Linked DNA regions of Homo sapiens: all the other regions are linked to region 2. The links come from fine-mapping of genetic effects on gene expression. A gene starts in region 2. Each other region holds a variant in brackets. All regions are shown on one strand. Distances are between the middles of the regions.

Region 1 (10,786 bases), 580 kb after region 2:
AAGCTACATTTCCTCTGCTTCTGGTGTTGCTTGGTGTATGTGTGTGTGGGGGTGGGGGGGGGGAGGGGGAGAGGTATCTCTTCTAGAACTCTGTGTCTCAGTTTTCCCGATTCTGATACGAACTGAAAAAACAATCTTTCTCTTTCCCTAAGTGTCAATTACCGCTTCTAGAATAGCACTTTGGGTACAGCGACGAAAATTTATACACCAAACCCTACCTTCCAGGGGAGTTTGGCGAACCACAACACTTACCAATGAATGAACCTGTTTCTGGTTACGGAGAACAACTTGCCACTCTCCACGTAGTAAAAGCCTCCCGCGCTTTCACTGTATTTTACGGCGCCAGCCACGGCATTTGCAGTCCCTGCAAAATGAACGTGGTCAGCCTGCACACGCGTCTTCTGAGAAATGACAGGGACTAAGGGAGCTGACAAAGCAGAGAGTGACAGACTGACAACCCATACAAAGAAAAGAGGAAAACGTCGGACATCAAGGAATCTCTGATCCCGGGGCTAGAGGCATGTGGACTCAGGAGGATGAAACAGGGCGTCAGGGACCCTGGGACCCATGAGAGGAGCCCGAGGGGACAGATGGGATCGCACCCTCCCTGGCCATTTCCGTACCAATGCTGCAGACTGTGAATTCCCGAAAGTGCCTCGGCCTTTCGCGCTCAGCTCCGCTTAGCTCCACGAAGCTCCGTTCCAGGGCTCCCGCCGCCGCCATCTTCCCGCCGTCGCCGCGACGCCCAACGGAACAAAGGCAGGGCCGCGCGGTCGCCGTCACTTCCGGGGGTGGGGCGGGCGGAGCTGCGGACAGGTGAAGCATTCCGGGAGCAGAAAGGCGGCTCCGGCCCTTCGTTGCGAGGCTTCCACCGGGAGAATGAGGGTGGGCAGCGAGGAATCCAGAAGAGAAGGGGGCAGGGGAGGCAGACTCTATCTGCGGGAACCTTCCAGTGGCCGGCTGGAACGCCTCCGGAGGGCGGTGCTCTTTTCTCAGCGGCCGCAGGGCAGGGGGCGGGGCCGGGTTTGTTTCTGTTTCTAAAACGCGGGGCTCAGTCGACCAGGAGGGGCGAGGTCCGGGGAGTCCCGGCCTTTCGGCGTCCTCTGCCGGATCCCGGGTTTATGGTCACCTCTCCCTCGGTTAGGGTGTCCGTCTGTAAATCTTTGGCGATCCTCCCTTCGCTCTTCAGTGGCGACACTTGGGATGGCGGGGTGAGGAAGGGGTAGTGAGGGAAAGGCCTTTGGTTTTGGTCTTTCCCCTCCCCAAGAGACTGTATTCGTGTATTCCTGTATAATGAAACGTAATGTGGTAAACCTTGGTGCTGCCACTTGCTGAGGTTACCTGAGTGCTACTCACTTGGATACGTGAAAGGAATTTGCCATTCCTTCCACCCGTGATCTTGCACTTGGCTGTCAATGCAGTAAGGGCCCATAGTGGGTGTTTAGAAGATATTGTGGGAGTAGATGTTCAAAATCGAGGAAAATGCTAATCTCCAGCGGGGAAGGTTTTGTTCCTTAGTGATAGCCAATAGAAGTTAAAGCACTTCTATTACCAGTGACCACAACCATTCCCTGTCATTCTCCGTTTCATTTATCTGGTTCCGACCATCATTTTCTATCTTTCCACTTCACTCCCTCTGGGACACCAACTTTGGCAGTGCAGTCCCCTCATTCTACCTGGAATCCATTGTTCTACAAAATCTTCACTGTCCCACACTTCTTTGGTGTTTCTTTCTTATCCTGAATACCATTAAATTACTTCATTGCCTAACTCTTCATCGGTAAAAACTACAACTTCGACTACATTCAAATCTGTAGCTGAACATGACTGGAGAAAACTATACACCCGGGTCGGGCGTGGCTCCCAGCATTTTGGGAGGCCAAGGCGTGAGGATCACTTGAGGTCAGGAGTCCGAGACCAGCCTGGCCAACATGGTGAAACCCGGTCTCTACCAAAAATAGAAAAATTAGCCGGGCGCGGTGGCTCACGCCTGTAATCCCAGCGCTCTGGGAGGCAGAGGTGGGTGGATCACGAGGTAAGGAGTTTCAGACCAACCTGGCCAACATGGTGAAACCCTGTCTCTATTAAAGATACAAAAAATTAGCCGGGCATGGTGGTGCACGCCTGTAATCCCAGCTACTCGGGAGGCTGAGGCAGGAGAATCGCTTGAACCTGGGAGGTGGAGGTTGCAGCGAGCCAAGATCGCGCCACTGCACTCCAGCCTGGGTGACAAAGCGAGACTGTCTCAAAAAAAAAAAAAAAAAGAAGAAAGAAAAAAAGAAAAATTAGCTGGGCATGATGGTGCGCTCATGTAATCCCGGCTACTTGGGAAGCTGAGGCAGGAGAATCGCTTGAACCCGGAAGGTGGAGGTTACAGTGAGCCAAGATCTCGCCGTTGCACTCCAGCCTGGGCAACAAGAGCGAAACTCCGTCTCAAAAAAAGAAAAGAAAGAAAACAGAAAACTATACACCCATACTGACATGCCTCCCTGTAACTCCATCAGGACCATGTACCTTGAGTGGGCCCATAATGCTGCCCAGCAAACACATTGTATTTGCCTTCTCCATTTACTGTTCTAAATGAATATTTCATAACTCCTATAACCTCCATTGCCTCCTTTGTCATCCTGACTCTCAGCTTGCTTCTTCATTTAGAAAATTAAAGCAGAGGCTGAGATGGAAGGATGGCTTGAGGCCAGGAGTTCAAGACAAGCCTGGGCAACATACCCCCATCTCTAATAAAAATTTTTAAAAAACTAGCCAGGCATAGTTGTGTGCCTCTGTAGTCCCAGCTATAGGAGGTTTCTTGAGCCCAGGAGTTGGAGGATACAGTGAGCTACAATCCTGCCACTGTGCTCCAGCATGGCCAGAAAGACACCCATCTGGAAAGAAGGAAGGAGGAAGGGAGGACTTCCTCTATAATGACATCTCCCCACCTACCAGCATCTGTAACCACATATTTTGCCTTCCCTTCCTGTTACTATAAACTGTCTCTGAGCTTATGCAGAGACAACCTTTCTACTTCCTTAGAACACCTGCTCAAGGACATCATTCTAGCAATTCAATTATTTCCATTTTCAGTCTTTTCCCCTTTTCTCTTAGTACTGTATGTACTAAGCATACAAACATTCCCTCGACCTCCACTCTCTGCAGCTACTACTCCATATCTCTTCTCCTCTCACCCACAGCAAAACTCAAGAGTGTTTTAATTCCTTCTCTCTCATTCTCATATATATATATATATATATATATATATATATATATATATATATATATATATTTTATTGAGATGGAGTTTCGCTATTGTTGGCCAGGCTGGAGTGCAATGGCACAATCTCGGCTCACTGCAACCTCCGCCTCCTGGGTTCAAGAGATTCTCCTGCCTCAGCCTCCCAAGTAGCTGTGATTACAGGCATGCGCTGCCCTGCCTGGGTAATGTTTTTTGTATTTTTAGTAGAGACAGGGTTTCACCATGTTGGTCAGGCTGGTCTCGAACTCCTTACCTCAAGTGATCCACTTGCCTCGGCCTCCCAAAGTGCTGGGATTACAGGCGTGAGCCACTGCATCTGGCCTCATTAAATCCATGTTTTTCAGGCTTTTGCTTCTACTGCCTTGCTGAAACTGCTTTTTTCCGGGTTATCAATGGCATCCACATTATCTGTCTAATACTAAACTGCTATTTCTTTTTTCTGACACATAATCTTGCTCTGTTATCCAGGCTGGGGTGCAGTGATGTGATCCCAGCTCATTGCAGCCTCAAACTCCTGGGCTGAGGTGATCCTCCTGCCTCAGCCTCTCGAGTAGCTGGGGCCACAGGCTTGTGCCACCATGCCCTGCCAAATTTTTTATTTTTTATTTTTTGTAGAGACAAGGTCTTCCTATGTTGCCCAGGCTGGTCTCAAACTCCAGGCCTCAAGCGATCCTCCTACCTCTGCCTCCCAAAGTGCTGGGATTACAGGCGTGAGCCACAGCACCTGGCCTGAACTGTTATTTCTAAGCTTATTTGACTACTTGTAGAATTTGACCAATTGCTTGCTCCTTCCTCGTGGAAACACATTCTTCATGTGGCATCAAGGACGCCACTCTCTTGATTCTACCTATTTCACTAACTGTTCCTTTTCAGACTCCTTTCCTAGATGCTCCTCTTTTCCCCAACCTCTTGATGTTGGAGTGTCCAGAGTTCAGTTCTTGGTCCTTTCCATCTACAAACACTCCCCTGAGAATCTCACCCAGTCTTCTGGCTTTAAATACTGCATTGTTATATGCCGATCATCCCCAAATGTATACCTCCAGTCTAAGCTTCTCCCCCGAAGTCCAGGTTTATATATTCAACGGCCTATTTTGTATCTTAGATGTAACATGTCTGAAACTGAAGTCCTAACCTCTCTCCCCACACTTACTTTCCCCATCGCAGTTACCAGCACTGTTCCAGTTGCTCAGCCTCCTGAGTAGCTGGGATTACAGGTGCTTGCCACTACGCCTGGCTTATTTTTTTTGTATGTTTAGTAGAGATGAGGTTTCACAGTGTTAGCCAGGATGGTCTCAATCTCCTGACCTCATGATCTGCCTGCCTCGGCCTCACAAAGTGCTGGGATTACAGGTGTGAGTCACCGCGCCTGGCCACACTTCAACTGTTATTATTTACAAATTCCTGGTTATCTAAGTTATAACTGCTCATGACACTGATGTGCCACAGTAGAGAGAACTATTCCGAAGACTGATTATTTCCACTTTCATATCTAGAGGTCAGACCTCTTTTGCCGAGTTCTCAGCCTTTTATATTCAGTTGCCTCCTTGATGCCCCTTGGATTTCCCATGGACATCTCAAATTCAACATATCCAAAATGTTACCCCTCTCTATATAGTCTCACTATATACTCTCACATGTAGTCTATATCTGTGTGGACATCACCACTGTGGCCCAGTCTAGAAATCTAGTAATTACCCTGGACTTTTCTCTTTTAATCCCAACACCCAAATCTCATATATCCATATGGCAAAAGAAAGATGGCCACAAATTCTTTGACATTGTTCCCATCCAGAAGTGTAGCCTTCTTTGTCCCCTCCCCTTAAATCTGGAGGGTTCTGTAACTGCTATAAGGAATATAATACAGCAAAAGTGATGCTGTGCCAGCCTAGCTTAAGAGAGTCTACATCTCTCTTTGAAGACTGGCTATAGGGGAAGCAAGCTGCCATGTAAGAAATTTGGCTACGCCGGGGCCATCCTAGGCAGATTGCAGGGAGAGACCACACACAGAGACTCTAATTCTACTTGAAGTGAGAGATGCCTGGTAAGTCCCCAGGTCCCAGATATTTTGTAGAGCACAGATGAGTCATGACCACTGAGCCCTGTCCAAATTGCATATTAATGAGCTAAATACATGATTGCTATTTTTATTTTTATTAAATTAAATTAATTAATTAATTAATTTTGAGACAGAATCTCACTCTGTCGCCCAGGCTGGAGTGCAGTGGCTCAATCTTGGCTCACTGCAACCTCCAGCTCCTGGGTTCAAGTAGAGGTGGGGTTTTACCATGTTGGCCAGGCTGGTCTCGAACTCCTGACCTCAAGTGATCCACCCGTCTCAGCCTCCCAAAGTGCTAGGATTACAGGCATGAGCCACCGCGCCCGGCCTCAATGTACATATTTAATGTAGTAATGTTTTTTCATTTTTTTCTCAGAAAAAAATGTTAAATTGATGAGGCATGTTTCGGTTTTATAGGAATCTAGGAATTACATTTTTTGACAGTGAACACTTTTTAGCTTTAGATCACTGTCTTATCTCCAACATCCATCAGAATTCCGGGAACTTCACGTTACCTAATAAATGTTTGAGGAATAATTAAATGAATGAATAAGTGCATATATGCATTTTTGGAAAACTCAAATACCCTTTGAACTATTAATGTTCTGGGGGATGGTTATAACATAAATTGAATCATATTGCCATCTAGTGGTTAGGTAGTGACTTCGTTTAGAAACAAAATGCAGAATGTTACCAATATTGTGCAGCAAGTTTTATTTAAATA[CT/C]TTTTTTTTTTTTCAGATGGAGTCTCGCTCTGTTGCTCACACTGGAGTGAAGTGGCGCGATCTCTGCTCACTGCAACCTCTACTTCCCAGGTTCAAGCGATTCTCCTGCCTCAGTCTCCTGAGTAGCTGGGATTCCAGGCACGCACCACCACACCTGGCTAATTTTTGTACTTTTAGTAGAGATGGGGTTTCACCATGTTGGTGAGGCTGGTCTTGAACATCCGACCTCGTGATCCGCCCGCCTCGGCCTCCCAAAGTGCTGGGATTCCCGAAGGCGTGAGCCACCACGCCCGGACTTTTTCTTTATTTTTTTTTTTTTGAGACGGAGTTTCGCTCTGTTGCCCGGGCTAGAGTGCAGTGGGGCATGATCTCAGCTGACTGCAATCTCTGCCTGCTGAGTTCAAGTGATTATCCTGCCTCAGCCTCCTGAGTACCTGGGATTACAGGTGCCCGACACCACGCCCGGCTAATTGTTTTATTTTTAGTAGAAACAGGGTTTCACCATCTTGGCCAGGCTGGTCTTGAACTCCTGACCTCGTGATCCACCCACTTTGGCCTCCCAAAGTGCTGGGATTACAGGTGTGAGCCACTGCGCTCAGCTGAACAATACTGTTAATTGAACTTTAAGCAGATTTTCATAACCAACTTGATAGCTACTCCTTGAAAGAAGAATTTGGTGGTTTAAACAAGTGTGGGAAATGATGATAAATAAAGTTAAACATATTTCTTTCTTGAAGAACTTTTCAAAGACATTAATATAATAGCTTTGTGAAGTTCCAAGAAGGCCTTATGCATGATACTGCTTTCCAGACTCTTTGACATACAGAATACTCTTTTCAAGGGGCAACTCATTGGACCATTGTTCTTTGAGAATATATTTTGGAAAACATGGCTTTACTTTCATTTTGCCCATAGGTTAAAAATATCAGCTGGGCATGGTGGCTCACACCTACAATCCCAGCATTTTGGGAGGCTGAAGCAGGAGGATTGGTTGAGCCCAGGAGTTTGAGACCACCCTGGGCAACATAGTGAGACTCCATCTCTACAAAAAAAAAAAAAATTATCCAAGTATGGTAGTGTACACCTGTAGTTTCAGCTACTTGGGAGGCTGGGGCAGGAGGATCCCTTGAGCCCAGAAGTTCAAGGTTATAATGAGCTATGACTGTGCCGCTGCACTCCAGCCTGGGTGACAGAACGAGACTCTGTTTCTAAAAAAAAAAGCAGAATTGTGGAATAAATGAAGTATGTCAGTGACTTCTCAATTCCGTTTTCAGTATTCTTTCTACCCACTTAGGAAACCACCATGACTTTAGACTCCAGGGCCTTTGAGGGGCCCTGAAAGCCCAGGGCTCCCACCTAGACTTGACCCTCCTGTGCTTTGGACTTATCCTTGGGAACTATACACCCTGGATTGTTTTCACCTTTCAGGTAATATTTTCTATAAATTTCTCTTTTTTTACTTTTTTTTTTTTTTTCTGAGACAGGGTGTCACTCTGTCGCCCAGGTTGGAGTGTAGTGGCCTGATCTCTGCTCACTGCAACCTCCGCCTCCCAGGTTCAAGTGATTCTCCTGCTTCAGCCTCCCAAGTAGCTGGGACTACAGGCGTGCACCACCACGCCCAGCTAATTTTTATATTTTTAGTAGAGACGGGGTTTCACCATGTTGGCCAGGCTGGTCTCAAACTCCTGACCTCAGGTGATCCTCCCATCTCGGCCTCCCAAAGTATTGGAATTACAGGTGTGAGCGACCATGCCTGGCCTTTTAAAAATTTTTTTTTAAATTTTTTGAGACAGAGTCTTACTCTGTCACACAGGCTGGAGTATAAGGTGCAATCTTGGTTCATTGCAACCTCCACCTCCCAGGTTCAAGCAATTCTCATGCCTCATCCTCCTAGTAGCTGGGATTTCAGGCGTGTACCTCTAACAACATTTTTGTATTTTTAGTAGAGATAGGGTTTCGCCATGTTGGCCAGGCTGGTCTCGAACTCCCGGCCTCAAGTGATCCCCCACCTTGGCCTCCCAAAGTGCTGGGATTACAGGCGTAAGCCACTGTGCCCAGCCAATTTTCTGTAAATTTCAATTATGATTCATTATATGATTAGTTAAATGTTACTTCTGTATCTTTGTAGGAGCTTACATGTAATTTAATTCACAAAATCAAAACAAACTCTTGCTAAGGTGGGCGAGGTGGCTCACGCCTGTAATCCCAGCAGTTTGGGAGGCTGAGGCGACAGATCACTTGAGGTCAGGAGTTCAAGACCAGCCTAGCCAACATGGTGAAACCCCACGTCTACTAAAAATATAAAAAAAATTAGCCAGGCATGATGGCATGCACCTGTAATCCCAGCTACTAGGGAGGCTGAGGCAGGAGAATTGCTTGAACCTGGGTGGTGGAGGTTGCAGTGGTGCCATAATGAGCCAAGGTGGCACCACTGCACTCCAGCCTGGGCGACAAAGCAAGACTCCATCTCAAAAAAAAAAAAAAAAATCCTCGCTTGAACCATATGTTCTGAGTTTTACTTCTGAAAATATGAATGCCTTACCTATTAAAACTAGCTCTGGTATAACTGGAAATGAGTTGACATTATAGTAATTCACACTGAGGTGCTGATGACTATAAAAACTTCATAAATTGCCTTTCCCAGAGGTAAGTCATGGCAACATACACTACCTTAACTGGTAGGGCATTGCCCCTCCTCCCTCTCTTGCTAATCAGTTGTGGGAGTCCTTTTCTACTGCCTCGGTATCATTTTCAACAGAGTGATTCAGAGAGCTATCAGCTGACTGGAATTGGCACGTTATCTATATACTCCACTTACCATCTCATTCAAAGGGATTAAACTCTAGTGGTGGAATTGGAGGCATCAACAAAGAACCAGATGTGCAGGTAGCCTCAGTAGGGGCAGTTAAGTTCATCTCAGTAAAATATGTTTAATATTAGTCTTTTTTTTTTCTTTTTTAAGATAGAGTCTCACTCTGTTGCCCAGGCTGGAGTGAAGTGGCACCATCTCCACTCACTGCAGCCTCTGTCTTTTGGGTTCAAGCATTGTCCTGCCTCAGCCTCCCGAGTAGCTAGGATTACAGGTGCTCACCACCACGCCCAGCGAATTTTTGTATTTTTAGTAGAGACAGGGTTTCACCATGTTGGCGAGGCTGGTCTTGAACTCCTGACCTCAGGTGATCCACCTGCCTTGGCCTCCCAAAATGCTGGGATTACAGGCGTGAGCCACCGCGCCTGGCCAATATTAGTCTTAAAAAACAAGGTGGGCCAAGCATGGTCTCGCCATGTTAGCCAGGCTGGTCTCGAACTCGAGGCGGGCACAGGAGTTTGAGACAAGCCTGGGCAACATGGCGAAACCCCATCTCTACATAAAGTACAAAAATTAGCCAGGTGTGGTGGTACATGCCTGTAGTATCAGCTACTCTGGAGGCTGAGGTGGGAGGGAGGATGACCTGAGCCCAGGGAGGTTGAGGCTGCAGTGAGCTAGCTGAGATCACATTACTGGGCAACAGAGACCCTGTTTAAAAAAAAAAAAAATCAAGATCAAAAGTTGATCCAGTAAAAAGGGTTATTTGCATGTATAGAGTCCAAAAGTGCTTTTTTTTTTAGACAGGGTCTTACTCTGTTACCCAGGGTGGAGTGCAGTGGCATGATCAAGGCTCGCTGCAACCTCTGCCTCCCAGGTTCAAGTGATTCTCCTGCCTCAGCCTCCCAAGTAGCTGGGATTACAGGCTCGCACCACCACGGCTGGCTCATTGTTTTGTATTTTTAGTAAAGACAGAGTTTTACCATGTTGGTCAGGCTGGTCTTGAACTCCTGACCTCAAGTGATCTGCCTGCCTCGGCCTCCCAAAGTGCTGGCATTACAGGTGTGAGCCACTGTGCCTGGCCTCAGAAGTGCTTTTTAATATAAAAGTGTACAATACAATTAAGAGGCTAGAAATTCAGATATTTGAGTAGAGATTCTCACCTATATCTAGACCATCTTGAAGTTGCACCCACTTCAAACCCTCCCTTCTCATTCGGTTCTGTCTTAAAACCTCAGGGCTATCACTTCCTTTGTTGCTGCATGATCATGGGCAATGCCAATCAATGTGCTCACGTCTTTATGTCTTTCTCTGCAAAATAATGATGGCAATAAATATCAGTTGAGAGATTTTTGCAGTCTGTTTCATTCTTTTCTCTTTTCATCTGCTCCTGAGAGTTTTTTTTTTTAATATCCTTCTCCTGTGCTACCCCTACAAAGAATAAAAAGCTTCAAATCATAAAAATAGGATGAGTTTTTAGAAGTATCACTCCTTCCTCATTTTGCCTGCCAAGTTTCAATTTGGTGCAGGTGCCGAAAGATGTTTATAGGCAAATAAAATAAGTCACTTCCACGTCTCAGAGCAAGGATGCTCAGTGACCCGAATAGGGGTTAGAACTTTGATGAGAGGCTCCAGTTTGAGGTCAGAGGCCAATGCTTTTCCAAACCCCCAGACTTTAGTCTTGTTTTGGCTTGCATTTGTCACTGCCCAAATCTTGCAAGAATTTCTGGCAATTAAATTAGTCAAAATGTGTGACTACAATTTCAGAGCTGGCAAAGCCTCTATGGGCAGCCACAGGTCCACACCCAGTGATTGTTTATATTTCTCTCGCATCCTCCAGGATCTTGCTTACGCACCAGTTTCTCTTGAGTAACGGTATGTGGAGCCAAGTCAGTAACGGTAATATTCCTTGTCTGCCTCCTTGGGCTGGTCCTGACGCTGGCCTCGAC
Region 2 (10,786 bases):
ATCAGCAGACCCTCAGAGGTGCATTAGCTAACTATAGAACCTCCTCTTAATTTCTCTATAAAGGGGGCTGTTTGCCACACTTTGGGGCTCAAAACCTCACCAAGAAATGCTTTAGAAAATGGGGCTTGCCGCCGGGCGTGGTGGCTTACACCTGAAATCCCAGCACTTTGGGAGGCCGAGGCAGGCGGATCACCTGAGGTCAGGAGTTCGAGACCAGCCTGGCCCATATGGCAAAACCCCATCTCTACTGAAAATACAAAAATTAGCTGGGCGTGGTGGTGCACACCTGTGGTCCCAGCTACTCAGGAGGCTGAGGCAGGAGAATTGCTTGAACCAGAAGGCTGAGGTTGCAGTGAGCTGAGATCGCGCCACTGCACTCCAGCCTGGGTGACAGAGCAAGACTCCATCTCAAAAAAAGAAAAAAGAAAAAGAAAATGGGGCCTGCCCATTAAATGGACCAACACACAACACTTGATAAACATCAGGGTGAAAGTACAGGAAGTGACTCACCAAGAAGCCTTGAATGGAAAAGTGTAGCAGATGGTTGCTAAAAGAAATCTGACAAAGCCTGGGGAACTCTGTAGGGTGCAGAGACTTTGACAATGTGTATGAGAGACATTCTCTAGGTATCATTACTTTAGCTCATGTTTTGTTGCATTTTAGTCTTCTCAGCAGGAAGACTGTTTCCAAGAAAAATGTATTATTTATTGACCAGGCGCGGTGGCTCATGCCTGTAATCCCAGTACTTTGGGAGGCCGAGGCAGGCAGATCACGAGGTCAAGAGATCGAGACCATCCTGGCCAACATGGTGAAATCCTGTCTCTACTAAAAATACAAAAATTAGCTGGGCGTGGTGACATGCACCAGTAGTCCCAGCTACTCAAGAGGCTGAGGCAGGAGAATTGCTTGAACCTGGGAGGCAGAGCTTGCAGTGAGCCGAGATCATGCAACTGCACTCTAGTCTGGCAACAGAGCAAGACTCTTTGTCTCAAAAAAAATTTTTTTATTTATTTTACAAACACTTATGTGGTAGTTACCATATATGCCACATATTTATGAGATAGGTACTATTATTATTCCCATTTTACAGATGGGAAAACCAAAGCCCAGAGAGGTTAAATAACTTACACAAGGTCACACTGCCTTGTAAGTGGTAGAGGCAGGACTCAACCCGAGGCAGTCTGGCACCAAAATCCACATCCTCACCCATACTGCAATATTCCCTCGAGGATGTGATACATGAAATGTATCTCTAGTGTTCAAATAAGTAAGGCCAATGCCAGTGAAAAACAAGTCTTTTTTTTTTCTTTGAAACAGGGTCTCGCTCTGTCGCCCAGGCTGAATGCAGTGGTGTGATCAATCATGGCTCAATGCAGCCTCGACCTTCTGGGCTCAAGTGATCCTCCTTGAGTAGCTGGGACTACAGGTGTGAACCACCGTGCCCTGCTGAAAAAGGATTTTTTTTTTTTTTGAGCCAGAATCTTGCTCTGTCGCCCAGGCTGGAGTGCAAGTAGAACAATCTCGGCTCACTGCAACCTCCACCTCCCAGGTTCAAGCAATTCGCCTGCTCAGCCTCCCGAGTAGCTGGGACTACAGGTGCGCCACCATGCCCAGTTAATTTTTGTATTTTTAGTAGAGACCGGGTTTCACTGTGTTGCCCAGGCTGGTCTCAAACTCTTGAGCTCAGGCAATCCGTCTGCCTCGGCCTCCTAAAGTGCTGGGATTATAGGGATAAGCCACCGCATCCAGCCTTTTTTCTTTTTCTTTTTTTTTTTTTGAGATGGAGTTTCGCTCTGTCATCCAGGCTGGAGTGCAGTGGCGTGATCTCGGCTTACTGCAACCTCCGCCTCCCAGATTCAAGCAATTCTCCTGCCTCAGCCTCCTAAGTAGCTGGAATTACAGGAGTGCACCACCACGCCCAGCTAATTTTTGTATTTTCAGTGAGACAGGGTTTTGCCATGTCGGCCAGGCTGGTCTCAAACTCCTGAACTCAGGTGATCCCCCTGCCTCGGCCTCCCAAAATACTGGGATTACAGGCATGAACCGCCGTGCCTTGCTGAAAAACGATTCTTGATAAACAAAAATAAGAGTTGCCTCTATTTCTAGAAATGTGGAGCCCTCAAGAATTTTAATGACAGAATTGGCAGGTGATGGTGTCTGGTGCCTGTAATCCCAGCACTTTGGGAGGGCGAGGCGGGTGGATTGCTTGAGTCCAGGAGTTCGAGACCAGCCTGGGCAACATGGTGAAATCCTGTCACAACTGAAAATATAAGAATTAGCTACTTGTGATGGTATGCACCTGTAGTCCCAGCTACTAGGGAGGCTGAAGTAGGAGGATGGCTTGCACCCGGGAGGTCGAGGCTGCAGTGAGCTGTGATTGTGCCACTGCACTCCAGTCTGGGTGATAGAACAAGACCCTGTCTCAAAGAAAAAAAACAAGAATACCAGAATTATTATTTAATTCAGCACCTCTTGTGTGCCAGACACAGCGCTAAGTGCCCTGCATACTTTGTCATTGAACTATACCAACAATTTTCTGAGAAGGGTTCAGATATGATTCCCATTTCACAGATGAGGCTTATAGAGGGGTTAAGACATTTGCTCAAGGTTACACAGCAAAGCCTTGTAGACCTTTTTTTTTTTTTTGACGGAATCTCGCTCTATCGCCCAGGCTGGAGTGCAGTAGTGCAATCTTGGGTCACTGCAACCTCTGCCTCCCGTGTTCAAGCAATTCTCCTGCCTCAGCCTCCCAAGTAGCTGGGATTACAGGCACCTGCCACCACGCCCGGCTAGTTTTTGTGTTTTTAGTACAGACGGGGTTTCGCCATGTTGGCCAGGCTCTTCTCGAACTCCTGACTTCAGGTGATCCGCCCGCCTCAGCCTCCGAAAGTGCTGGGATTACAGGCGTGAGCCACTGTGCCCGGCCTCAGTAAACTTCTTAGTGAGTTCCTAATAGTTCCCTAAGGTGAGGAGAGAAGAAAGTTCCTGCTGCTCCTGCTGCTTGCGTCAGCCTCCCTTCTTCCTCCCCAGGGCTGCAAGTGGAATTCATCAACCCCATCTTCGAGTTCTCCAGGGCCATGAATGAGCTGCAACTCAATGATGCCGAGTTTGCCTTGCTCATTGCTATCAGCATCTTCTCTGCAGGTGTGGAGGAGGGGCAATGGGAAACAGCAAGAGACTTACACCAAGGAGGGCTGCAGGTCCCACAGGAATCGGTGGGGGGAGGGGGGTGGTGGCTTGGGAGGGTGGAGGCATTTGCTGTGTTATTTTAGGATGAGAGAGCTTGGCTGGAGCATGTCTCTATATTTTGGTTGCAATTTGGGGTATGGAACTGGACCCTGGCCAGACCTGCTCCTCAACTCTCTTGGTGACCTATAGACCGGCCCAACGTGCAGGACCAGCTCCAGGTAGAGAGGCTGCAGCACACATATGTGGAAGCCCTGCATGCCTACGTCTCCATCCACCATCCCCATGTGAGTCTCCCCATGGTGTTCCTTTTCCTCCTTCCCACACACAGGCCCATTCCCTGACATACCTACTTTCCCTTCAAGAATTTCTCTCTGACTGCATGCTGTGCAGACAATTCACCTCTCCCACAACTCCCCTACTCTTGCCCCGCTTCCCTGGGGACAGGCAAAAGCTGTGTTTGTCTCTCTCCTTTCCCCAGGACCGACTGATGTTCCCACGGATGCTAATGAAACTGGTGAGCCTCCGGACCCTGAGCAGCGTCCACTCAGAGCAAGTGTTTGCACTGCGTCTGCAGGACAAAAAGCTCCCACCGCTGCTCTCTGAGATCTGGGATGTGCACGAATGACTGTTCTGTCCCCATATTTTCTGTTTTCTTGGCCGGATGGCTGAGGCCTGGTGGCTGCCTCCTAGAAGTGGAACAGACTGAGAAGGGCAAACATTCCTGGGAGCTGGGCAAGGAGATCCTCCCGTGGCATTAAAAGAGAGTCAAAGGGTTGCGAGTTTTGTGGCTACTGAGCAGTGGAGCCCTCGCTAACACTGTGCTGTGTCTGAAGATCATGCTGACCCCACAAACGGATGGGCCTGGGGGCCACTTTGCACAGGGTTCTCCAGAGCCCTGCCCATCCTGCCTCCACCACTTCCTGTTTTTCCCACAGGGCCCCAAGAAAAATTCTCCACTGTCACTCTGTGGTATGGCCATAAATGCCTCAGCGCCGCCTCACTGATAGGTCTGGTACTGTTTGAACAGGAAGATCAAAATGAATACAAAATGAGAGAAACCAATTTCTGGATTGGGGGTGGGGACACGGTAATAGAGGAGGAAGCCTGCGATCTTTAGGATCCGCCTCCAGGCCCAGAGGAGGGAGAGTCACAAATGACAGCCTTGGCCGTGAGAGGGGGCCTCTTCTTACTAACCCCCACTGCGCCATATGGGTAAATGGAATGCTGAGGCTTAGGCGCCCCCTTCCCCTGCTGGGATCCGGGTAGGATCCGGTTGCCTTTCTGCGGTGGAGGAGGAAGTGTTGGATTTCAGCGCTAAGGCGTCGGCGGTGCACCTCACGTGCATGTGTAGCATGCCTTGGTTTTTCCTTTGGCATCTGAAAAAGGCACAACCTGAAAGACCTAGAACCCAGTGTCGGTCCCCAGGCCCTTTGGGACAGGAAGAGAAGAGCCGTGTGGCCGCGGGGAGGATGTCCTGAGGCGGGGCTGTCCTCGCGGACTGACTGGACTCCATCTCCCAGCGGGCGCCGCGGCGCGGCCACGCCCCCCCACTCCCCGCGCGCGCCCGGTGGAGGTAACCGCGGCCGCGCGCCCCCCTCTGCCCCCGCTGCCCAGGATTGGTAGGCTCCACCGCTCGGCAGCCGGCTTCCCTGCTCGGACGCCGAGCACCGCCAAAGCGCGTGAGTGGGGGGTGGGGACTGGGGGATGGGGAGCCCGTCAGGAAGTCTCAGGGGCCGATTATCTTGGGAAGTGACTTTCAGAGGAATCCCCATGTCGTCGAAACGGGCGCTATGACCCCGTCGGGTGAGAGTCTCTCTGAGCAACCCAAACAGAAGGTACTGCTGTGGGTCCCCCACTTGGCACGCGACGGCGCTGGGTCGGCCTGGCGCGCCCTCCCGCGCCCACGGGCGCTAGGCTAGGTCTGTGCGCAGCCGCTGTCTCCCGAGGTCGGCCCCGCCCCGCGGCGCTCGGCTCGGTGCAGCCCCGGCCCCCCGGGCTGAATGGTACGGCCCCGGCCCCGGCCTCCCCCTCCGCACCCCGCGCGAGTGGTGCGTGCCCCCCAGTGCAGACGCGGAACTGGCGCCCGCTCGGAGCGGCGCCGCGCTGGGGAGCGACTGACGCCCCGCTGCCGGGGGACGTCGGGCTGGGCCTGGCCAGTCCCCCAGAGCTTGGGAGGTAGGAGAGTCTGGGCCGGTGGGGTCCTGGGCGAGCGTCTGGGGACTCCGAGCGGGAGACGGGCTCTGAGAGGACACCGTGGCTCTTGGAGGAAGGGGTCTCTCAGGAGGCCCTGGGGGAGTGTGAAGGGGCGTGGGGACGGGGGTCTGCCGAGGAGGGGCGGGGACGGGGATGGGGGCGCCCCGGGCAGAGGAGGGGGCTCAGGCTACTGGGCTTGGTTCCTGCCGAGCGGGCGGCTCGGGTTCAGGTTCGGGGCGGGGGCGGGGGCGGGGGAGAACTGTCCAGCAGGTGAGGGGGCGGGCAGAGCTGGCCAGCCCTGGGGCCGAACCCGCACAGCGCTTGGCGGGTGTGCTTGTGCGTGTGCGTGCTTGCGCCTTATTTTTGGCTAGAATTTGGAGAAACACGTTTGGTTCTCAAGAAATTTTTTTTTTAACTTGATATTTCAAAATTGACTTGCTGGAGAGAGAACACCATTTCATCTTTCTGCAATCGCTCTCCTCCCCATCCTCGTGTATCTACCTTCTTCCACCTTTCCCTGCCCTCCCCTCTACCCCAACCCTGCCAGCTGCCAGCCTCCTTGCTCCAGTTCTCCCATACGCTGGACCAGTCTGTGCTGATGAGCTTGCAAGGTCACTGCCTGGGGAGGTAGAGGAGGGGAGGAGAGCCTCCTGTTGTGTTCACGTCAGCAGAGATGTCATATCGCTCTCTGGTTCCTGTGGTTTTACTGTGAGATCCTGTCCAAAATGAGGGACGAATCCAAAGGGTTGGTTAGCATGGCTATTTCTGCTGAAAAGGCATAGATAACTTAAAAGTTTGTGAATCCTAAATCTACCTCTGGGTGGAGCTGATGGTGATGTCGGACTTCAGCAGATAGATATGCATTTTGAGCTGGATGCTTTTGGAATACAGGAAGATAGGAACCAGAGGCTCTACGTTAGTAAACATGGTTGAGGCAAGAGGCAGAGTCGGAGCCTCGTTGGTTGTGAAGACAAGAGTGTGAGTTGTGGGTGATGTTAGAGGATTTAGTCTTTAGAGGAGTTAAAGGTGTTAGTCTTTTTGGGGAGGGGAGAGAGGAGAGAATGAGAAGGAAAATCTTAGTTATCTTTGCAATCTGAATAACTGAAGGCAGTGGCTGCTGATCAGATGTGAACTCTGGCTAAAAATTTATCCTACCACCCGTAGCTAGAATAATAACAAGATCTCAGGGTCCTTGTGGCTCTGGAAGGAAATGATTGTGAGTGACTTGAGTTTCGTCAGATAGTTGTCAGTGGAGAGGGACTGAGATCCCACCAAGGCTAGAGAGGCCTGATGCGTACTCAGTAGGAGGTGCTTCAGGCCTGATCTTTGAGATTTTGGTTGGAGAGGGCTCCGGGTTTTCAATGTAAACATAGATTGCAAGGTGTAGTCTAGAGCTCTGGTTCTATAAATTCTGTTTTACTTTAAGATACTTTGGCTCTCACTCTAGTCATTTCTACATAATTCTTTTTTTTTTTTCGAATCCCATGACAGGTTAACTACATAATTCTTTATTAAAACAAATTATGCTTTTTACTCATATCCCATTTCATTTCTCTATTTCTCTCCCCCTTGGATTCTGCTCAGGAGGAGCTGAGTGCGGCTCTGTTATAGTGCCCCACCTCCTGCAGTTTGCTCATGACTCTATTGCAGTTGGGAGAACCAAGGGACTATTTGGGTTCGTTAAGCAGTGGTGATACCTAGAAATGAATATATGGCGTGCTCAGAAACCTGGTGGTGTTCTAGAGATATCACTATCAAAAGCCAGAATTAGGACGAAGTACAAACTACAGACAGATGAGGGAGAAGACAACCTAATTCTTAGCAGGTACTGTCAGTGGGAGAAGTGTCTCTAGGTTCGAGGAGAGTGAATTGTTATGGGCCTTGGCTGACTCTGGAGTAGCAGCTGCTAGCACTGTGCGGTCACCAAGCAGGGGAGGGGCTGTGGCTCTGCTATAAATAGTGCTGGGAGCCAGAGTCGCTATAGAGATAAAACTGAATCCTATTACCTGCAGGTCCTCTACTGGGAGCAAGGGAAAGGAGAAAGCAGTATTTTGAGGATTTGAGAGGTATTGCAAATAGGTCTTGTTTATTGTTAGGTAGGGGAGAAAAAACTTCTACTCATTACCTAAACCAAATAGGGCCTTAAGCATCCAGGGAGTGTGTATGTCTGTATATATGGGAGTGCCCGCAGCAGCAGGTGAGGGAGTAGAGGGTGTGTGTGTGTATACGATAATGGGTTTCTCTCCGTGTGCATTGAACAAGGTCTTAGGCCGCATGTAGAGCACAGAGGTAGAATCCTGGAACACTAGAAATATGAGAAAAGAACTTCTACTCATAGAAGAAGTAGCCCTACCAGAAATAGCTGTGCAGCGGGGTGAAACGTTTTATTTAGAGAAGTGTATAGACACTTAACACGAAATAAATTATAATTAAGACCATGAAAGCTTTTCCTAATTTTAGGACATAGTTTAGAAATTTCTCTGAGCACGTCTCCCTGTCCTTGCAGAAATCCTGGTATTTCTGCCTCTAATTCATAGCCTCTGTAATGTATAGTAGGACAAGGACTCATCTGTGGGTATTGTATTACTGATTCTGAGCCTGAGATCAAAATAGAGGAGAGATTATGATTCAGCACCAAGGGCAGAGCTAGTAGCAGTGGCCTCTGGGCTCCTTTCTTGCCTGAAGGAGGGAGAAAAGTGGTGCAGATTAGGCAATTGGGGCATGGACATTTTCATTTGAGATCACATGAGGTAGAATAGCCAGCTGTTATTGTCTGAGCATGGTTAACTAGACAGTCTATGTGGTAGTTTTACATCAAGCTGAATGTAGATTGTTGAAACAGAATAATTAAGTTTCCATCTAGACCTAGAAGTGCAGGTTAGTGCTAGCTAGTTGAGGAGTCTGGTTTGATCCTGATCCACCCTGGAGGGATCCTGAGAGTGACTTCAATTTTTGTTACAATGACTGAGTCCAGATTAGATGGCCTAGGTCTGTTTTTCAGAAACAGAGCCCCAGGCGTTAAGCTGGAAATTAAGTCATTGGTAGGGATAGGTAGGTGAACCATTATTTATCTACATTTTTTTTTTTTTCTTGAGACGGAGTCTCACTCTGTCACCCAGGCTCGAGTGCAGTGGTGCGATCTCAGCTCACCACAGCCTCCACCTCCTGGGTTCAAGCGATTCTCATGCCTCAGACTCCCGAGTAGCTGGGATTACAGATGTGTGCCACCACACCCGGCTAATTTTTTTGTATTTTTAGTAGAGATGGGGTTTTGCCATGTTGGCCAGCTGGTCTCAAACTCCTGACCTCAGGTGATCCGCCTCGGCCTCCCAGAGTTCTGGGATTACAGGCGTGAGCCACCATGCCTGGCCTATCTATTTTTTAACATTCGATTCTGTGAGCTCATGAGCCTAGACACGAGGCTAGGCAAGCGTCAAGTTCTCCTATCATTAGTATGAAAGTGGAAGACCTTCTGACCTCTGCCTCTGGCCGGGAAGAAGTTGAGAGGGATGAGTCCCTTAGGCACAGCAGTGGATCTTATCAGTACTTTTTTTCCTATTAGACTTCGATTTTCAGAATTCCTCCTGGGAATGCTGACTCCTTGCTTGGTGCCCTGATGCTTCTCTGAGATAAACTGATGAATTGGAACCATGGTGCAAAAGAAGAAGTTCTGTCCTCGGTTACTTGACTATCTAGTGATCGTAGGGGCCAGGTAACCAAGAAGAGATTGACTTTTGTCTTAATATCTGGGATAGCCATAAAATCTGCAGTTGTTCCCTTCTCCGATTTCCATGTTGCTTTGCATAGCTCATCTTCTCCTGTTATTTTACCCTGATGGGAGCATCGAAGCCAGTAGGGAAAAAACAAAATCAGGTGGATTGAAAGCAAAACCCTGCTCTTAACTAACATCTTCTTGATGTCGAGCAAATATACTCTTTATACCTCAGTTTTCTTATTTTGTAAAAAGAAAAAGTACATTATAAGCTACTCCTCTATGTATACTTTTTTGGTAATTTATTAGTTAATTCACTTTAAAAGATGTTAATCATCTTAAGGTGCCAGTGATAATTTTATTGTCAAAATCTCCCCTTCGTTTCAGAATAGATGCCTTCATGACAGTGTAGACTTCACTTAGGTTACCAGCTCCATGCGGCAGGCAGCACCCATATTTTCCAAGGTGTTACAGTCAGGTTACTTTATCCAAAATAGCATCTTGAGCTTTATTTGTTGACTGTGGTTAAAATTTGATAGCCCATTCCATCCCTTCAGGCTGCTGAATTTGTCTTTATGTTCTTCAGGCACCCGAGCAGTGATAGCGTGGCCCAGACTCCTGAATTGCTACGGCGATACCCCTTGGAGGATCACACTGAGTTTCCCCTGCCCCCAGATGTAGTGTTCTTCTGCCAGCCCGAGGGCTGCCTGAGCGTGCGGCAGCGGCGCATGAGCCTTCGGGATGATACCTCTTTTGTCTTCACCCTCACTGACAAGGACACTGGAGTCACGCGATATGGCATCTGTGTTAACTTCTACCGCTCCTTCCAAAAGCGAATCTCTAAGGAGAAGGGGGAAGGTGGGGCAGGGTCCCGTGGGAAGGAAGGAACCCATGCCACCTGTGCCTCAGAAGAGGGTGGCACTGAGAGCTCAGAGAGTGGCTCATCCCTGCAGCCTCTCAGTGCTGACTCTACCCCTGATGTGAACCAGTCTCCTCGGGGCAAACGCCGGGCCAAGGCGGGGAGCCGCTCCCGCAACAGTACTCTCACGTCCCTGTGCGTGCTCAGCCACTACCCTTTCTTCTCCACCTTCCGAGAGTGTTTGTATACTCTCAAGCGCCTGGTGGACTGCTGTAGTGAGCGCCTTCTGGGCAAGAAACTGGGCATCCCTCGAGGCGTACAAAGGTACAGTTTGCTGCTGATGCCTAATGGGGGAAGCATTTAGAGATTCCATGTAATTGGTCTTTGAGGGGCATAGGAAATTTCCTCTACAGCTCAAGGTCCTTCAGACCTATTAAGCATATTTAGAGTATTTAGAGTTAATCTTTTTTCTTTTGGAGACAGTCTCGCTCTGTTGCCCAGGCTGGAGTACAGTGGTGCGATCTCGGCTCACTGCAACCCCTGCCTCCTGGGTTCAAGTGATCCTTCTGCCTCAGCCTCCCGAGTAGCTGGGATTACAGGTGCACGCCACCATGACCAGCTAATTTTGGTATTTTTGTAGAGACAAGGTTTCGCCATGTTGGCCAGGCTGGTCTCAAACTCCTCACCTCAGGTGGTCCACCCACGTTGGCCTCCCAAAGTGCTGGGATTATAGGCGTGAGCATCATCCCCAGCCAAGAGTTAATCTTTACTAAGCAAAAGACTGCTGCAGAGTTAGACCTCTTTCCAAAATTGTGTTTGGAGTAATGCTGGAA
Region 3 (8,000 bases), 73 kb after region 2:
CGTCCAGACGTAGCTTATTTCCAGCTACAACCACAATGGTGTCTGGTATGCGGCCTGGGCAGTCCAGGTGGATCTTGGGAGGTTCTGCAGAAGACACAATGTAGTTCAGAGAAACGGGAGAGCCAGGAGGAGCACAGGTCACTGGGGCGGGGCTGCTCAAGAGCCTGGGCCCCTGGTTATTGGTTTTTTAGATTTGTATTGAGGTATAGTTTATGCTCAGATCTGACAGTAGGCTGAGTTCTGACAGATGAATACACCCATGCAATTATTAATCCAACCAAGATCTGGAACATTCCCATCACCCCAGGACGTTGGCTGGGAGGCTTGTAATATTCAGGTCAGGTCACCTAGCATAGCATTTTGAAAACTGGGGGAACATCAGTGTCTTGCCACACACATACACACACACACAATACACACACACACACGCATATACACATACACACAGACACACATACACATACACACATGCACACACAGACACACACATGCACACAGACACAAATACACATACATACACGCACACACACAGACACAGACACACATATATACATACACACACAGACACATGCACACACACACACGCGCGCACACATGCACGCACACATGCACACATTAAAAAGGTTCCCTGGCCAAATAAATCAGGAATCTGCCCTCAGTTAAACAAAGCAAAGCAGTCTGGACGCAGTGGCTCACGCCTGTAATCCCAGCACTTTGGGAGGCCGAGGCAGGCAGATCATGAGATCAGGAGATCGAAACCATCCTGGCTAACATGGTGAAACCCCGTCTCTACTAAAAATACAAAAAATAATTAGCTGGGCATGGTGGCGGGCGCCTGTAGTCCCAGCTACTCAGGAGGCTGAGGCAGGAGAGTGGTGTGAACCTGGGAGGCGGAGCTTGCAGTGAGCCGAGATCGCGCCACTTCTCTCCAGCGTGGGCGACAGAGGGAGACTCCGTCTCAAAAAAAATAAAAATAAAAAAAAAGGAAGAAGAAGAAAAGATGTAATAATAACAGTCACACATGTGACAGCACTTGACAGGTCTGATACATCATGTCACCTCATCTTTATAACTATCCTATGAGGTGGCACTATCAGGGTTCCCATTTTAGAGAAGAGGAAACTGAGGCTCACAGAGATTATAATTGACCCATGGTCATGAGTGGCAAAGCTGAAGCTGGGCCCCAGGACCCCCACTTTTGATCCTTGCTCTTCCCTCTGTGAGTGGAGGGGAGGCCTGCGTGGGTGGGTTGCGGGAAAGTGAGCAGAACCAAGACTCAGGGGCCCCAAGACTTACCCTGCCTGGGTACGAAGTCAATCTTGACCTCTGCAAGAGAAGGAAGAGCAAGTAGCACGGGGGCAAAGGCAGGGCCCAGTGACAGGGGCTCCTGGCCCCACTGCCCCGACCCACCCTACCCTGGAGCAGGCTCACCCATGAAGTGGAGCTTGGCTGACAGGTTGCAGGCGAAGCCCTCGGGCACAAAGCTGTAGTCAGCCTCGTCGGCAGGTGTGACGTCGTCAATGGTCAGTTTGTGGACCCTGCAGGGGAGCAGTGGCTCAGGGGACCCCACTGGGCCACACACCCCTGGCCTTGCCAGATACCCCAGCCAGGGTCCCAGGAGGCCCTCACCTTGTCCTGGCTTGTTGGTATTCTGATTTTTAAAAATGCCTTTTTTTTTCTATATTATCTAATTTTCCAGCTTTTTAATGTGCCTTCAGAGGTAGGCAGCGTAAAAGTGATTTCTACATCAAAGCATCTCCTTGGCTGGGCCCTTGGAGACTGGGCAGGGGCTGGGTCTCATTAATCTCTGTGAACTTGGGCCCAGCACGGCCAGCCCAGTTGCTCCAGGGATGAGCAAGAGGGCGGGAGAGGCAGTGAGGGCCTCTGGCCAGAGCCGGCCTCCTTGGTGGCCTCCTGCCCTGCCCTGGTCACAAGCTGGGGGAGGGTGCTGGGGAGCGCTCGACCCCGTCCGTGTCTCTCCCTGCTGCCTCTTTGTCTCTGTCCCTCTGTTCTTCTCTGTCTCTGACGAACTCTCCTATGTGTGTGCCTCCCTGTGCATATCTTTCTGTCTCTATAGAACTATTTCTGTCTTTCTGTCTCTTTGTCTTTTTGGGTCTGTCTGTTTCTCCCTCTCTGTGGGTCTCTGTCTCAGTCTCTGTCCTGTCTCTGTGCATCTGCCTCTCTGTCCACCTGTCTTTATCTCTCTCTCTCTGTTTCTCCCTGTGTCTCTCTCTGTCTCCATCTCAGTCTCCACCTGTCCCATCCACCTGCCCTGCACACTCACCGCCCGATGTGGGACACCTTTATGCGGCTGTCGGGCACCAGCTCCTTCCCATTCTTCAGCCACACACCCCGAACATTCTCATCTGAGACCTCACATTTGAACACCGCCTGGTCCTTTGCGCCCACCATCAGGTCTGCGATGCTCTGGTACACCTCCAGCTTCTTTTCTGCAGGGCAGGGCAGAGCCATTGAGCTCGGGAGGGTGTGTGGGTGTGGCGTGAATCCCTGTGGAGGGCGTGTGGGCCCATGGGCGCTGGTGCGCACGTGTCTGGGTGCATGTGGGCATGTGAAAACACGTGTGCCTGTGTGTGCCATGTTTGCCTGTGATGGTGCAGTGCACATAAGGAACCTCAAGTGTCTGAGGGGTGGTGATGCTCACCAGGCCCGTATGACCCTCTCAGTACCCTCTGGAGCGGTCACCTCAGCATCGTCATTTTAGAGATGAGAAGGATGAGGTTTAGGCTGTCAAAGGCCCAAGGTCACAGAGGCCTTGAGCCCAGGTTTGCCTGCTCCCCTACAGGGCTAGGTGGGGTGGGGGCTGAGGGGTCCAAGCCCTAAAGCCTCATGTGCCCCCCCAGCCAGGCTCACCCTGCACAATGAGCTCAGCCAGCGCCTGGCCCCCGCTAGTGCACAGTGCATAGTGCCCCGCGTCCTCCAGCATGGCCTCGTTGATGATCAGGTGGTGTCTCTGCCCGTCCTTCTTGAACCGGTATTTGAAGGTCTCCTCCCGGGTCAGCTCCACCCCGTCCTTCAGCCTAGCCGGGTGGGTGGGTGGCAAGTGCTGTGGCCTCTTCTGGGCAGATGCCCCCAACACCCATGCCCCGTGCTTCTGGAACTCACCATTTGACTTGCGCCCCCTCCTCCGATACTTCACACTCAAACTCCACCCGCTGCCCCACCATCACCAGCTGGTCCTCCAAGGGGCGCGTGATGAGCACAGGGGGCTCTGTCCAGGCAGGGTGAGCATGAGGGTTGGCTCCCCTGAGGCCATCTCCTCCCCAGGTTCCCACATCCTCAGGTCCCAGGCCCACCTTTCACAAAGAGCTCCGTGCTACACTTCTCGCCACCCACCACGCACTGGTAGGCTGCGTCGTCCGCCAATGAGCACTGGCTGATGGTCAGGGTACGCTTGGCACCGATGGACTCAAAGATGTACCTGGGTGGGGGCCGCAGGGAAGTGGCAGGAAAGCTGCGGACACCCCTCCGGGCCCAGTGCGCCCCATGATAATCCCTGTGCCCCCCACCCCAAGCCATCCAGAGGGGAACTTACTTGCTGTAGAACAGAAGGGGCCGTTGAAGTGTTCCCGACGGGAGGAAGTGAGCCCGAGACAAAAGGAGAGAGAGAGAGGGACCGGCAGGAGCAAAAGGATGGGAAATTAGGCCCAGAGAGATGGGGCTGAGAGCCACACCGAGTCAGAGATACGCATGTGGAGAGGGGCAGGAGGCAAGGCTATGGGGGTCCCCACCTCCACCCGAGCCCCCCTCCCCACCCCAGGCTGCACCTGCCGCTCATCTGGATCTCCTGGCCATTCTTGAGCCATTTGACCTCAGCGTCATGGTCAGCCAGTTCCACGGTCAGCCGGATCTTGTGGCCTTTGCTCACCTGGTAGGCCGGCTCCAGCTTCTTCTGAAAGGCTGAGCACCACCCCTCAGCCCCGGCCACCCCACCGCCCGCACCCTGCTCCCCCAGGCCAAGCTACTGTGGCTGTGGCTGGGGCCCAGGTCCCCCCCTCCAATCCCCTCTGTGCCGCCCCGCTTCCACTTCTCTGTGTCTCTATTTCTTTTTGTTTTGTTTGTTTGTCTGTTTGTTTGTTTTTTGGACAGAGTCTTGCTCTGTTGGCCAGGCTGGAGTGCAATGGCGCCATCTTGGCTCACTGCAACCTCTGCCTCCCAGGTTCAAGTGATTCTCCTGCCTCGGCCTCCCGAGTAGCTGGGATTACAGGCATGTGCCACCACGCCCAGCTAATTTTTGTATTTTTAGTAGAGACGGGGTTTTACCATGTTGGCCGGGCTGGTCTTGAAATCCTGACCTCAGGTGATGCGCCCGCCTCAGCCTCCCAAAGTGCTGGGATTACAGGCATGGTGTCTTCATTTCTTTATCTGTGTCTATGTGTCAACCCACCTCCTTGTCTCTGTCTGTCTGACCTTGTCCTTCTGTCTTCCTTGGGGTCCTCTCCACCTGCTCAGCTCAGGGATTGGGTTAGGGGCTTCCAGAAAGACAGAAGCTTGTCAGGAGAACTGGGGCTGGGACAGCTGTGCCTTCTCTTCTCTCAGCAACCCCTGAGTTGTGTACTCTTCCCAGGCGCTCCCACCTAGCAGCCCTCTGTGCCCAGCACTCTCACTCCCATCTCAGCCCCCAGGGCCAGTGCGGTGGTCCCCATGCTGCTGCAGTGGGGGAAATAGGGCTCAGAGAGGCGACTGGCCCAATGCCACCAGCCCAGCAGGTGTGTGGCAGAGCTGGGTCTTGAGCCCAGCCCTGCTCCACAACAATGCCTCCTCTTGCGGCCGTGTTTGTAAAAGCCCATGTTGCTGCTGCTGAGCCCAGGGAGGAAGT[G/T]GGGGCTCCATCCACCGAGCAGAGAAGGACCCCTGAGTCCTCAAATACTCTGGCTGGGCCTGGAGTCAGCTGCGGAGGGGCAGAGATCTACTGCTGGGTGCTCTGTGACCTTGCGCTAGTTCCTTAAACCCTCTGTGCCTCGGTTTCCTCAGTAACATGGAAATGGTAATAGTCCTTCCATCATAGTGTTGTTTCGAGAATTAAATGAGATAATTACATAAAGCACCTAGTGGCTGGCTTAGGAAGGAACTCACTCACTTTTTTTGAGATGGAGTCTCATTCTGTCACCCAGGTTGGAGTGCAATGGCACAATCCTGACTCACTGCAACCTCTGCCTCCCGGGTTCAAGTGATTCTCCTGCCTCAGCCTCCGGAGTAGCTGGGATTACAGGCGCCTGCCACCATGCCCAGGTAATTTTGTATTTTTAGTAGAGACGGGGTTTCACCATGTTGGTCAGGCTGGTCTTGAACGCCTAACCTCAGGTGATCCACCTGCCTCGGCCTCCCAAAGTGCTGGGATTACAGGCGTGAGCCACTGCACCTGGCCAGCAATTTGCTCTTTTTACTGTTGTTGCTATTCCTGGAAGACACCCCTACCCTCGGAGGTCCCCATCTGCCTTGCCAGCCTCCATCTTTTCCTCCTTGGGCACCTACAGTCCTTTGCTTGGTGCCCTCTGGGCTCAGCAGTTCAGGAGTTAACCCAGAGGAACATTGGTGGCATTCAGGGGATCCCTGGCTTAAATGGGGCCACGGTGCCGGTAAGGGCCAGGCCACCTAGCGATGGGGTGATGGGAAACCCAGTGAGGCTGAGACAACAGGGAGGCAGGGCAGAGGGATAAGGGGCCTGGGGGAGGTCAGCAGGGAGGGACTAACCAGCTCCTCTCCCCGTCCCCATGATCGTGTGTGTTTTGTGTGTGTGCTTTGGGAGGGGCTTGTCTCCCATATCCTGCATGGAAGCTGACCCCTCCATTCAGTCGGTGTTTATAGAGCGCTCGAGGTGTGTGCCAGGCCCTGTGCTAGACCCAGACATGGTGGGGAGAAGGCATGTGAGACCCCTGCTTTCCCGGCTCACACCCGCCCTTGTCAACCCCTCAGTGGAGAAGGGCTATTCCTGGGCTCTCCTCTTTCCATCTGCCTGGGGGTGAGGGTAGTTAACCCAAGCCCTCCTGCTTTGTTTGCCTGAGAGAAAGATTAGCCAGGCTCTTTTCTTTGCCTGTGTGTGGCTCTCCAGGCTTAGCGGGCCTCTTCCCTTTTCTTTTGGGTGTGGAGAGGGTTAACCGGGCTTCATTTCTTTTCAGAAGAGGGTAGAGAAAGAAAGTGTAGCCTGATTTTTCCTTGGTGAGGAGGGTTAACCTGAGCTCTGTCCTTTTCCTTGTGGCTGTCCTGGCCTAACTTTTGCTCTTCTCTTCTATCTCTGTGGTAAGGGGCTAACCTGGGCATTCTTGGCTTTTTCTACACAAGGAGGGGTTAACCTGGGCTCTTCTTTCCTGTGAGTCTCTGTGCTAAGCCGGACTCCGCTCTTTCCATGTATGTGGACGAGGTGGGGGGCTAACCTGTGCCCTCTCCTCTCCCCTGTGGGGAAGGGCTAACCTATGCCCTCTCCTCTCCTGTGTAGGGAAGGGCTAGCCTGTGCCCTCTCCTCTCCCCTCTGAGGAAGGGCTAACCTGTGCTCTTCTTCTCATCGCGCCTCATGCCCTTGAGCCTCTTTAGCATGCCGCGCAGGTCAGTGACGCCGTACTGGAAGGCGATGCGCTCGTACTCAGATGGGGGTGCCTGCCGTAGGATCTCCCACACGTCCTCCTCTGCTGGTGCCTCCAGCTTCGAGTCCCTGTGTCCCGCAGTCTAGGCTGTGGCCGGGGGCAAGACTGCAGCCCCCTGGGCGGGGCTTCCTGGGCCCAGGACCAAGGAGCTGTAGCCACCCCTGTCCCTCTGCCCCTTCCCTTCTGGTGGGGCAGCTGGAGCTGCTCTGGGTCCCAGGCCAGGCAGGACTGGGGGCCAAGGGAGCTGAAGAGGGGCTGGGGATCTGGAGGGGCTCCTGGCAGAATTAGGGGTGATGAGGGTGCTGTGCTATGTTGGGCACTCACCTCGGGGTCCGGAAACTGCTGCTCCAGGGGTGGGGGTGGGAGAAAGGGTAGGTGGCACATGAGAGGTATGGCCACCTTCCCTCAAAGACCTGGACCCCACCCATGGGCCTTTACTTCCTCCCTATTTTCCGCACTTGCACTCCCTGTGTTGTGGGGCACCCATGCTGCTCCGGAGGCTCTGGCAGGACCTCCTGTGTGCATTACTTTTTCTTATCCCTCCTAAGCTCTGACAGATAGGTGGGTGGCAGGAGAAGCCCAAGGCACAGAGACTCACCCCTGTCCGTGGGGAGCCGCACCCTGCTCTGAGTCTCTCACCACAGCCTCTCAGAGAGGGGACGGGAATCCCCTCTGCACCCACCAGCGCCCTGCCGCCCCCAAACACCCAGACCCCGATTCTTACTCTCTGGGCCACAGCAGCAGCAGCCATAATGGAGGGGCCGGGGGAGAGGGAGAGAGAGGGCAGAGAGAACATAAGTCAGTTGGGCCGACCTGGTAGACCCTGCAGCTCTGGGGACCCTCTCTCTGTTCCTTCTGGGTCCCCGGAGTTTACGGAGGGAGCTTTTGCAGCCTCAAGTGTGGAGTGGCCGTGGGGGACACTGTGAGGATGACTGTTGACGGGACATAATGTCTGCAGAGCCCTTTAACTCCTTCCACACTGGGATCATCCCCTCGACAGACAAGGAAACCAACTCAGAGAGGTGCAGTGTTGTGCTCAGGGTCACACAGCTGGCAAACCACAGTGCTGGGATTTGGAGCCAGGCCTCACCAGCTGCCCCAGGAACTGCCACCCAGGACTCACCTCTTTTTCAGCAGTGAGCTGAAGTCCAGAATCCCAGTGTCCTCATGGCTATCACTATGGAGAGGGACCCCCAGTGAGGCTGCAGTGAGGGACTGGAAAGGGATTAGGAGCAGGATGGGAGTGGAGTGGGGAGGGAGAAAGGGACACTAGCCAGATTGGGCTCCCACCCGTCTCAGACCCCTGGGGGTCTGCGGATGGTGCAGGTAGGGCCTGGGGCAGGGGTACCTGATCCGCCGACCACCTCCAGCCAGGCTCCTGTGGGGGTTAGACTCAGTATCCTC

Direction of the effects. Positions count from the first base shown, and alleles are read on the strand shown. Sizes are in standard deviations (SD) of each study's normalised expression.
For the expression in lymphoblastoid cells of the gene that starts at base 5,251 in region 2, C is the low allele of the variant in region 1 and CT is the other (large effect, 1.1 SD a copy in GENCORD).
In carriers of allele T in region 3, the expression in subcutaneous fat of the gene that starts at base 5,251 in region 2 tends to be higher than with G alone (small effect, 0.22 SD a copy in GTEx).

The links.
Region 1: its variant is fine-mapped to the expression of MADD in lymphoblastoid cells (GENCORD, PIP 0.95).
Region 3: its variant is fine-mapped to the expression of MADD in subcutaneous fat (GTEx, PIP 0.94).

Annotation. Positions count from the first base shown.
Region 1 is chr11:47,847,596-47,858,381 of GRCh38, forward strand. It overlaps NUP160 (nucleoporin 160), which reads right to left and starts at 755. Exons shown (of 36, transcript NM_015231.3): 1 at 624-755; 2 at 253-364. The coding sequence starts at 723. RefSeq lists enhancers at 693-1,252, 2,715-2,764, 2,795-2,844. The variant CT/C (reference allele first, on the strand shown) is at 6,031.
Region 2 is chr11:47,264,883-47,275,668 of GRCh38, forward strand. It overlaps MADD (MAP kinase activating death domain), which reads left to right and starts at 5,251. Exons shown (of 37, transcript NM_001376571.1): 1 at 5,251-5,364; 2 at 8,945-9,094; 3 at 9,681-10,277. The coding sequence starts at 9,033. It overlaps NR1H3 (nuclear receptor subfamily 1 group H member 3), which reads left to right. Exons shown (of 10, transcript NM_005693.4): 8 at 3,031-3,144; 9 at 3,379-3,473; 10 at 3,668-4,151. The coding sequence ends at 3,814. MADD-AS1 (MADD antisense RNA 1) reads right to left here and starts at 7,228. Exons shown (of 3, transcript NR_120569.1): 1 at 7,194-7,228; 2 at 6,197-6,259; 3 at 5,775-6,098. RefSeq lists enhancers at 356-650, 4,433-4,542, 5,016-5,310 and silencers at 4,693-4,802, 5,013-5,542.
Region 3 is chr11:47,339,707-47,347,706 of GRCh38, forward strand. MYBPC3 (myosin binding protein C3) reads right to left here. Exons shown (of 35, transcript NM_000256.3): 8 at 7,945-7,974; 9 at 7,720-7,773; 10 at 7,321-7,323; 11 at 6,921-6,938; 12 at 6,501-6,664; 13 at 3,786-3,918; 14 at 3,554-3,556; 15 at 3,315-3,439; 16 at 3,124-3,229; 17 at 2,872-3,038; 18 at 2,285-2,450; 19 at 1,432-1,538; 20 at 1,297-1,326; 21 at 1-84. Among named protein-coding and RNA genes, the nearest start is that of MYBPC3, 9.0 kb to the right of the region's middle. The variant G/T (reference allele first, on the strand shown) is at 4,838.